2 separate regions of the Homo sapiens genome follow, and region 2 is linked to region 1. Evidence: fine-mapped expression QTL. Tissue or cell type: whole blood. Region 1 holds a variant in brackets; the other region holds the start of a gene. All regions are shown on one strand. Distances are from middle to middle.

Region 1 (5,260 bases):
TGGTTCCTTACGGCTAAGCATCACTTCCCTTGGGGGAAGTGGGGACATTCACTTGTGCAGGGGTGGAATTATTTGGAAGCTTTTGAGAGGTTTCTGTTAAGACTGGAAGAATTGGAAATTATAGGTAGATCTCATCTCAACAAAGAGTATTCTCGGCTGGGCGCGGTGGCTCACGCCTGTAATCCCAACACTTTGGGAGGCTGAGGCGGGCAGATTACGAGGTCAAGAGATCAAGACCATCCTGGCCAACATGGTGAAACCCAGTCTCCACTAAAAATGCAAAAATTAGCTGGGTGCAGTGGCGCGCACCTGTAATCTCAGCTACTCAGGAGGCTGAGGCAGGAGAATCGCTTGAACCTGGGAGTTGGAGGTTGCAGTGAGCCAAGATTGCTGCTGCACTCCAGCCTGGTGACAGAGTGAGACTGCGCCTCAAAAAAAAAAAAAAAAAAGTATTCTCTTCTAGAGAGCTATGTCCTTTGTTGGCTGTTCTTGTTTGTTATCAGTTTGCAAGTGTATGTAACCATCATAGAAAAATTTAGAAAATTCCAGTAAGAAATCTTAGGCTGGGCACAGTGGCTCACGCCTGTAATCCCAGCACTTTGGGAGGCCGAGGTGGGCAGATCCCGAGGTCAGGAGATTGAGATCATCCTGGCTTAACGGTGAAACCCCGTCTCTACTAAAAATAAAAAACAATTAACCAGGCATGGTGGCTCATGCCTGTAGTCCCAGCTACTCAGGAGGCTGAGGCAGTAGAATTGCTTGAACCTGGGAGGTGGAGGTGGTGGTGAGCCAAGATCATGCCACTGCACTCCAGCCTGGGTGACGGAGCGAGACTACGTCTCAAAAAAAAACAGAAAAAGAAATCTTACCACACAGAGGTGAATATCACAAATTTTAAAAAAATTGATTAGTATGCATTTTATTTTATGTATTAATATTTAAAACCATTATTCTGAGGAGATTGATGGGGTTCACCAGACAGCCCAAGAGTCTAAGGTACAGAAAAGACTGAGACCATTATAAAGAGAGCCTGCCTAACTTAGGATACAAGTGGTCTACCTGAGGAGAATGTTAGCAAAAAGAGGCAACACCTTTTCCAGTTGTTGTGGGATAGGGACATGGTGCGGGAAGGAGGTAGGAAGCAGCAGAGATGGGTAAAAGGGGCCAGAGGCCAGGGAGTACATGGTGGCATGGGGGTGGGGGCATGTAGTATGGTCCAAGGTCAACATTTTAAAAAATAAGTTGAGATAGGGCCGGGCGCGGTGGCTCGCGCCTGTAATCCCAGCACTTTGGGAGGCCGAGGCGGGCGGATCACGAGGTCAGGAGATCGAGACCATCCTGGCTAACACGGTGAAACCCCGTCTCTACTAAAAATGCAAAAAATTAGCCGGGCGTGGTGGTGGGCGCCTGTAGTCCCAGCTGCTCGGGAGGCTGAGGCAGGAGAATGGCGTGAACCCGGGAGGCGGAGCTTGCAGTGAGCCGAGATCGTGCCACTGCACTCCAGCCTGGGCGACAGAGCCAGACTCCGACTCAAAAAAAAAAAAAAAAAAAAAAAAAAAAATAAGTTGAGATAGAAATGATGGTTCTCTTTCAAACAAAACAAACAAAAAAAGCTTTGAGGCAGACAGGACTGAGGCCAGAATAGAACCAAGAGGGAATTACTCCTGTGAGAGGGGAATATTCCAAAGATGTTCCGATCAGCTAAAGGCAGAGTTTTTAAAAGCAGAGCATCTGCTGGCTTGAGTGAATATCAATAACTGGTTGAATAACTGGTCTGGTTGAGTGAATTTCCGTAATCATGTGACTGGAGGGGTTTGCCTGGAGGGTTGGAGAGAGCAGATGCCAGCAACCATGGAGGGGAGAGTGGGGACCTTGGGATGTGCACTCCTCCGGGGGTTCACCACCATCATGACGGCTTTGAGTTCTGTTCTTGGGCTTGGGGATCAAAGGGAAGACTTTGCATTAGCAAAGTTTGTTTTTTTTTTAAATGAGAATATTTAGTGCTGGTAGAGATCTAGGGAAATGGGCATTTTTCTGGAATATATTTTCTGGTTGAATGTTAAAGACCTTTAAAATGTTTGTGGTGGGCCAGGCGCGGTAGCTCATGCCTGTAATCCCAGCACTTTGGGAGGCTGAGGCGGGCGGATCACCTGAGGTCAGGAGTTCGAGACCAGCCTGGCCAACATGGTGAAACCCCATCTCTACTAAAAATACAAAAATTAGCCAAGTGTGATGGCTAATCCCAGCTACTCGGGAGGCTGAGGCAGGAGAATCGCTTGAACCTGGGAGGCGGAGGTTGCGGTGAACTGAGATTGTGCCACTGCGTTCCAGCCTGGGCAATAGAGCAAGACTCTGTCTCTAAATAAATAAATAGATAGATAGATAAAAATAAAATGTTTATGCCCTTTGAAATAGTAATTTCATTTCTAGGAATTTGGCTTAGGGAAATAATCCAAGATAAGGCTTTGTGCATAAAGATGTTCATTATAATTTTTTATAGTGAAAAACCAGAAATAATTAAATGCTCAAAACAGGAGGATGTAAATTCTGGTACATCTTACATCATGGAAAATTCTTTGGATATTGAAAATATCTACAAGGAATTTTTAATATTAGAGGAAATGCTTACGGTAAATGTTGCATAGATTCAAAATTATGTAGAGAAAATATTTCAAGTATGTAAAATATGTAGGAAAAGGACTGGAAGGAAATATGCCAAAATGTTTTAAAATGGCTTCCTCTTGATCGTGAAGTTATGGGTAATTTATTTTCTGTTTTTTTTTTACTTTTTAGTAAACAAAATTTCCACAGAGTAGCTTCACCCAGGCTGGAGTGTAATGGCGTGATCTCGGCTCACTGCAACCTCCGCCTCCCAGATTGAAGCAGTTCTCCTGCCTCAGCCTCCCAAGTAGCTGGGACTACAGGCGGCCACCACAATGCCTGGCTAATTTTTGTATTTTTAGTAGAGACGGGGTTTCACCATGTTGGCCAGGCTGGTCTCAAACTCCTTACCTCAAGTGATTGGCCCACTTCGGCCTCCCAAAGTGCTGGGATTACAGGCATGAGCCACTGCGCCCAGCCCAGAGTAGTTATTAC[TA/T]AAAAAAAAAGTTATTTCATAACACAATAATACACAAATATTTTATAAGATACATAAATATAATGAGAGAAAAGTGAAAGGCTTCCCTCCCAAAGGGTAACCACTGTGAACAGTTTCCCACTTCTCTAAAATGTTTATGTGTACATGTACATATACAAATATATTGTTGTGTTTTTTCTTTTACCTAAGTGGGATCATACTGTAAATATTGTTCTGCAACTGCCTTTTTTATCCTTTCCAAAATGTCTTCTTTATCTTCATATACTGATACATGTAGACCGGCTTCGCTTGTTTCAAGTGCTGCCTTGCATCTCATGATGCAGATAATCCATGGTTTATCTCACCATTCCCATATTGCCAGACGCTTTTCTAGTATCCTTTCTCCACTATTTGAAGCAATGATGCAGTGAATACCTTTGTACACACAGTAGTGTGACTATTTCCCTAGGATAGAGAGTTAGAAGCAGAGTTGCTGGATGAAAGACCATGTGCATTTCTTATTTTGATAGATATGGTATGTATTTGTTAAGATGATATAAACTTGTCTACTGTAACCAAGACCTCAAAATAACAGTGGCTTAAAACAAGAGAGTTGTTTATTTCCCTTCAACTAACAGTCTAAGTGTAAGCAGTCCAGGGCTAACATTATGGTTTTGGAGTGTTAGGGACTCTGATTTGTCTTATTACTCTGCCATCTTCAACACATGCTTTAACTTTATGGTCTAAGATGATCACTTCTACTCCTCCATTCATATCCATTTTCTAAGAGGGAGAGAAGTTTAGAGCAAAACCTAGAAGTTACACCTATCATTTTTGTTCACATCCAGAATTGGCCAGAACCTAATCGTATTGGCCACACATAGCAGTGATGTGCATTGGGCAGTTTTGTGCCCAGCTACACTTCTAGTACTAAAGGAAGAAATCTCATAAAGGATGCACAAGACCTTTACACTGAGAACTGCAGAATGCTGCTGGAGTATTCGGATCAGCTAGGAGCAGGGTTTGTAAGTCATCATAGTGTGAGTGGCCACTGGCATTAGTGCGTTAGCTATTCACATTGCTAGTCTGTTTTCCCATTTGGCTGTTTGCCTTCTTTCTTACTGATTTGTAGGCAGTCCTTATGGATTACATATATTAACCTTTTATCTTCTATAGATGTTATAAATATTTTGTCCGTTTCTTTTTTTTTTTTTTTTTTTTTTTTTTTTTTTTTTTGAGACAGAGTCTCACTCAGTCGCCAGGCTGGAGTGCAGTGGCGCGATCTGGGCTCCCTGCAACCTCCGCCTCCCAGGTTCAAATGATTTTCCTGCCTCAGCCTCCCAAGTAGCTGTGACTACAGGCGTGTGCTACCTTGCCTGGCTAATTGTTTGTATTTTTAGTAGAGACAGGTTTCACTGTGTTAGCCAGGATGGTTTCGATCTCCTGACCTCGCGATCCATCCGCCTCAGCCTCCCAAAGTGTGGGATTACAGGCGTGAGCCACCGCGCCTGGCCTATATTTTAACTTTGTCAAAGGATCACTTGAGCCCAGGAGTTCAAGGCTGCAGCAAGCTGTGATTGCGTCACTGCACTCCAGCTTGGGTGACAGAGCGAGATCCTGTCTCAAAAAAAAGTCATAATTATTGTTACAACTATTTAAAGAAATATGCATGTGAAGAAAAGACTGAAAATGAATACTTTAAGATTAAGAGAGGTATATTTGGATAAGTGATTATTTTTCTCTCTTAAAAATCTTTATTGTTGTCATTCCCTATTTATGTTTTTTATGTTTTTAAAGAGACAGGTGTTAGTGGACTAGAGAATCAGCAGAGGCTTTCAAGACCTCCTGAGGTGAACTAGGACTGAAAGCTGTGTACTGTTTGGGAGGAAGGAGGCTGGACTCTTTGAGATGTGTGAGCCAGGAGGAAGGGGCCCCATTCTAGGCCTTGGTCTCTAAGAATGGGTTCACTTGTCTGATGGTCTACGGTCTGGTATGATATAAAAGTCCTTTCTTGCATTCCAGGGTCTCCTCATGCTGCTACAGAACCTACCTACAATACACTGGGGCAACGAAGAAATTGGGCTGCTTCTCGCCGAGGCATACAGACTCAAGTACATGTTTGCCGATGCCCCAAATCACTACCGCCGATAGGTGCTGTCTCCTCCGGGGACCCAGACTGCCTTC
Region 2 (5,000 bases), 71 kb before region 1:
AATACAAAAAATTAGCTGGCCATGGTGGTATGTGCCTGTTAGTCCCAGCTACTCAGGAGGCTGATGTGGGAGGATTGCTTGAGCCCAGGAGATGGAGGTTGTAGTGTGCTGAGATCATGTCACTGGACTCCAGCTTGGGTGACAGGGCAAGACCTGGTCTCAAAAAAAAAAAAAAAGGTCTCTCTGGTTGGTATATGGGGAATGGACTCTAAGGGGCTAAGAGTGGAAGCAGGGAGCCGAATAGCAGGCTGCTGTAAGCAGGTGTGTGGTTGGTGAAGATTAGGGTGACCAAGTGGTAGTGGTGAAAAAGGTTCCAACAATCTCAATTTCCCTATTTAAAAAGTCATCACAAGGTAACTGATGTGAATTTTTAAAAAATCTTGGAGGGGAAACTGATATAGAAAACAAACTGTAGAAATAACAGGGCTTTTCTGGGTTGAGCACTGTTAACTACACCCCCTGGGAATCAGTGTCATTTAACATTTCATAGAAGATTAAGAAAAAGGAGTATTTTGAGATATGTCTAGATACACAAATCATACTTTGCTTTCCACATAGTAAAATGTCAAATCAATAGGGAGCAGCTTCTGGAACATCTCTAAAGCCATGTGCATAAGCTGGAAAGTGGCAGGTATCTTGTCACATGGATGAGTGTATGGCAGCTCACATAGGGAAAGACAATTCAGAGGATACCTTTAAGACAATGAACTCTGAACTGCTGGTTGCCACCAAGGTAAGGAATCTAGAAGTTGTTTTAGATTACTCTTTCAAGACATCAACTCTTCTAAAGTCCAAACAGCCAGCAAAAGGTCTGGCTGTCCAGAATAAAGACAAAACATCAGCCTTAACAAAGCCTCAGTACATCCCTCTTTGGGCTTAGTGTGCAGTGCTGGTCACTGCATCCTAAGAAAAAGAAGCGCCAGAGAAAGGCAAGTAAAATAATTAAAAGAATAGAGGGGCTTTTTTTCTCTGGGTTAAATGCCCATAAAGAAGATAAGATGCTTTTATAGCATGAAAGACTCAGAGGAAGTAAAAATAGCCCTTGTCATCCAATCCTATAATTCTTAAATTAGGGGACAAAAGAAGCTTGAAAATGGGAGTAATGAAGAAACCGTCGTTGGAGGACATATAAAAGAAGGTCCTTCTTTGGCTGGGGCCAGGGGTCAGGTCTTTAAGTATTCTCCAATATGTGGAAGTACATGTGGTAGCTGTAAATGGAGGGTGGGGGTGGGGGTGGGGGACACGCAGCCCACCTCAACAGTCCTTCGAAGGGACAAAAACCACTCTGGACTGGTGCCCGCCTTCCCTCTTTCCCCAAATCACCACGGAATACAACCACAGAAACTCAAAACCAGCAAAAAACGCTGACAAGACATTCAAAGGATTCAAAATGCTAATACTAAATCTCATTGTCTGGGAAAATTAGATTGAAAATAAATTCAAGGGTGCAAGATTTATAATAGATTAACAAGGGAAATTAAGGATGTTGGTGGGGCCGGGAGGAGATACATCCTTAACTTTGTGATTCACACGATGGAGCAATACTGTGTCCTTCAAAGAAATGGTATTTGGTAATCTGAGTTGGACAGCTATCATAAACCATTTCCTATATACACTGTTAGCATAGTCAGAAAGTGAGAGTTATGGATTGACATAGGGATTAGATCATTTGAATTTTTAACCCACAGCACAAGTCCTTCAATCGTTTTCAATAAACAGAGGGAGAGGGAGACTCTGATGAACCGTTGCTCACGTGTTGAACAGTTAGCAATCCCGGGCTATCGGGTCCCTGCTGACCTTCCTTCAGAAAAACGAATGGACATGTAAACGGAATGAGGAAAGGAGGGTAATAACCAGAGTGTCATTGAATTGAGAGATGTTAAAAATGGGCCACAACCAACACATGGGCCCTTACTTTTAGGTGAAAGATTCCTATATATAAATACATAGTATGTTCTCTCTTGCCAAGAAATATTAGACTAAGGAACTTCATTCCTCACGAAGAAGATAATCCCCTCTTCCTTCCCATAGGTCCCTTACCTTACCTGCTTCTTCCCTCTCGCGGGTAGGAACTTTGAGCCCCGCCTCTCGGCTCGTCCAAGCTCCGCCTTCCCCGTCCACCTGTGTGCCCAGCCCCTGACGTTACCGGTCGGCTTCAGCGGCCTGCAGGATTCCGGCTCCCAATTGGTCGGCCCGTCCACGGCTTGCGCAGCTCACCAATGGCAGCGGTGCTGGGTGGAGGGGTGCCCACATCCAAGATGGCGTCCCCAGGAGCTGGGAGCGGGTGACCGGCGGCGGGGAAGCGGCCTGGGTTGGCCCTCAGATTGCGGGGTCTGGGGGCATCTCGCCGGGCAAACCCTTGGCCCGCCTACAAGGACTTCCCCCGGCCAGAGCAATGGCCGCTGAGAACAGCAAGCAGTTTTGGAAGAGGAGCGCTAAGCTGCCGGGGAGGTGAGCCCAGGACGCTGAGAGGGATAGGGGATTGGACCAAACCCTTCCAGATCCTAATCCCTGAATCCCGCGGGCCTGGGGCGCCACAGAGGCCAGAAGACTGGTTTGGGGAAGCTGGGACTGCCTGGTGGCGGCAGGGCAGCTGTCAGGCAGCGAAGCGAACAGCGAGCTTTGGGGACGGCTGGATGTGGGTGTAGACCGGGGTCTGGGGGCGGAGGTTTCAGGAGGGGTGACCTCAGCGGGAAGGTGGCCGAAGATTGGGCGTAAAGGGGAGTGGAGTTGGGTGAATAGTCAGTGTCGGCCCTGGTCTCGGAAGTTCCTCCCCAGAGCTGCTTCCCACTCTAATTAGGACTCCCTCTCAGGGGTCTCCACCACGCACAGGTGGTTGGTCGCTCGAGGATGGCCCCTTCCCTTGATCCCTGAGGTCGGCACTTACCCGAAGGATTCCGGTGGGAGTTTGGGGCCGCCTGCCGAGAGGGTTAGGCAGGAAAAGTGAGGACGATTCTCAACCCTGACCTTACTTTATCTTGAGTTGGCCCTTTCCCACTAGGAATTATTACAAGACGACCACAGAATCAGGGTTATTCCTTTGGCATTTTCTAAGGATTTGTCCAACCCCAAGTGACTTCTTCCTCCCCTGCATTGTAATGCACTTCTTGTGCAAATGCACTAAATTCGTTCATTCTTCAGTTGTTTAACTGGAGAGCAGACCCCCTAAGACTACCCCCACCCTCTTTTCGGTGTATGTTGAGACTTTTGGCAAATTATCCATCCATCAATCTACTGTTGGTTTACTGTTTCAGTTTATTTTGGGCAAAGTCCTGAGAAGTATAAGGAAGAGTGTGTATTTCAGTCGTAAATTTAAGATTTCTGCCAGCTACAGTCTACTTGGTGATGAAATTCATGTTTGGTTGTGTCCCCTGTGCTACCTTTTCTAATGGATTCAGGTTTTTTCCTTCTGGGATAATCTTTTGAACTCGTGACTTTTTTTTTTTAAGCGAGAGAGAGATGAGGGTCAGTAGTGGCTAGGTAAGAGCCTTAATTTTTTTTTTTTTTTTAAATGAAATAGAGACAAGGTCTGACTGTGTTGCCAGGGCTGGTCTCTGACTCCTGGCCTCAAGTGATCCTCTTGCCTTGGCCTCCCAAAGTGTTGGGATTACAGGCGTTAGCCACCATGCCCCACCAAGAGTCTTATTTTATTAAGGATTCTAGTAGACATATGGAGAATAGGGTGGAAATCAGCTTTTAGTAATACTTATTAAAGTAATAGAAAGGAATGCAAAGATAACTTCAGATTAAAGTGCTGTGGACTCAACAGTGTTAATATTACTGTTAAAGATGTTCTGTGTTTTTAGGTAAGCACACTTCCTGCCAACTGATTCCTTTTCCTTCCTGGTCTAGTGAGCTCTCTAGTTGTGCTAACTGCTATTCTCTGGGGTTTTCCGTAGTGAGATCATTAAATTTTGACATCCTAAGATTATAATCATAATCAATAGGAAGACTGTTGTATCAGGAAGCAGTGTAAGAGATGTGGGACGTGGCATGGGCTTCTGTGCCTTCTGACTGCTGGTTGCTATTAACAATCTTTTTTTCCTATATTTCCTGTATTTGGCTATAAGAACAGTCAACTTTTTTAAAGCACTACTTTTCTGAGATAGGAAGAGAAGTCTTTTCAGTTTCTTCAAGTTTCTGGATTCCTTTTTCATTTTGAAGAATATAGAGAAATAGAGAACTTTCGAGTTCAGAAAGACTTGGGTTACTATTTGGGCTCTGTTGTGTGTGTGACCAAGACAAATAATCTTTCTAGGCCTCAATTTCCTTACCTATGAAATGAGAAATAAAAATACTTTCCTCAGAGTTACTGTGGGGACTAAGTGAAATACCCTATTTGTAAAGAGCCTAGGACAGTGTTTATTTAGCACATTATAGTTGCTCAAAAAAACAGTAGTTATTAACATTGCTGTCATTATTACAGCAAGTAAACATTTAAAATAATGTTACTCAGATCCTTACCCCAGCTCATTGTCTTCGTTGTTTAAGGTATTCAAATATTGTCACAATTCATAATAGTTTTTAGTACCTTACTTGGTAAAGAGAAATACTGTTCAGCTGTGTGCTTTTAGCAGTGAAGCCCACAAGCCTCTGGTCATAGGAGAAAACTAAGGTTCTTTTAGATAGAAAGGTACTTTGGTTTAAAGAAAATGTTAGGGCATTTTCTCAAGAATAGAACTTTTGCATCTGTACTCTTTCGGTCTTAGAGAAGAAAAACTTTCTCCTGGGTGGGGAAATGACACAAATGACTCTACTGGATGCATGCAAACTTGGAAATGAAACTAGTTTACTCTTCTTTGCAAATTGAAAGGTGAAAAATAAAAGCGATGACAGGGTTCTTTCCATTTGTCTGATCATGATCCAACAATCTTAGTGACAACAAATAGAAATTTTATTAAATAAAAGAAGTTGCAAATGAATGAAACATTCTTTTTAAAAATAACAGCTTTATTGAGATATAATTCACATACCATAAAATTCACTCTTTTAAAGTGTAC

What was found. PIP is the estimated chance that this variant, and not a neighbour inherited with it, causes the effect.
Region 2: TBC1D22B starts here. The variant in region 1 is fine-mapped to the expression of TBC1D22B in whole blood (INTERVAL, PIP above 0.99).

The regions. Positions count from the first base shown.
Region 1 is chr6:37,325,946-37,331,205 of GRCh38, forward strand. It overlaps TBC1D22B (TBC1 domain family member 22B), which reads left to right. Exons shown (of 13, transcript NM_017772.4): 13 at 5,099-5,260. The coding sequence ends at 5,227. Among named protein-coding and RNA genes, the nearest start is that of RNF8, 25 kb to the right of the region's middle. The variant TA/T (reference allele first, on the strand shown) is at 3,097.
Region 2 is chr6:37,255,523-37,260,522 of GRCh38, forward strand. TBC1D22B (TBC1 domain family member 22B) reads left to right here and starts at 2,250. Exons shown (of 13, transcript NM_017772.4): 1 at 2,250-2,451. The coding sequence starts at 2,396. TMEM217B (transmembrane protein 217B) reads right to left here and starts at 2,622. Exons shown (of 2, transcript NM_001395378.1): 1 at 2,046-2,622. It overlaps TMEM217 (transmembrane protein 217), which reads right to left and starts at 2,622. Exons shown (of 3, transcript NM_001286401.2): 1 at 2,046-2,622. RefSeq lists a silencer at 2,081-2,210 and enhancers at 2,311-2,370, 2,471-2,530, 2,617-3,252.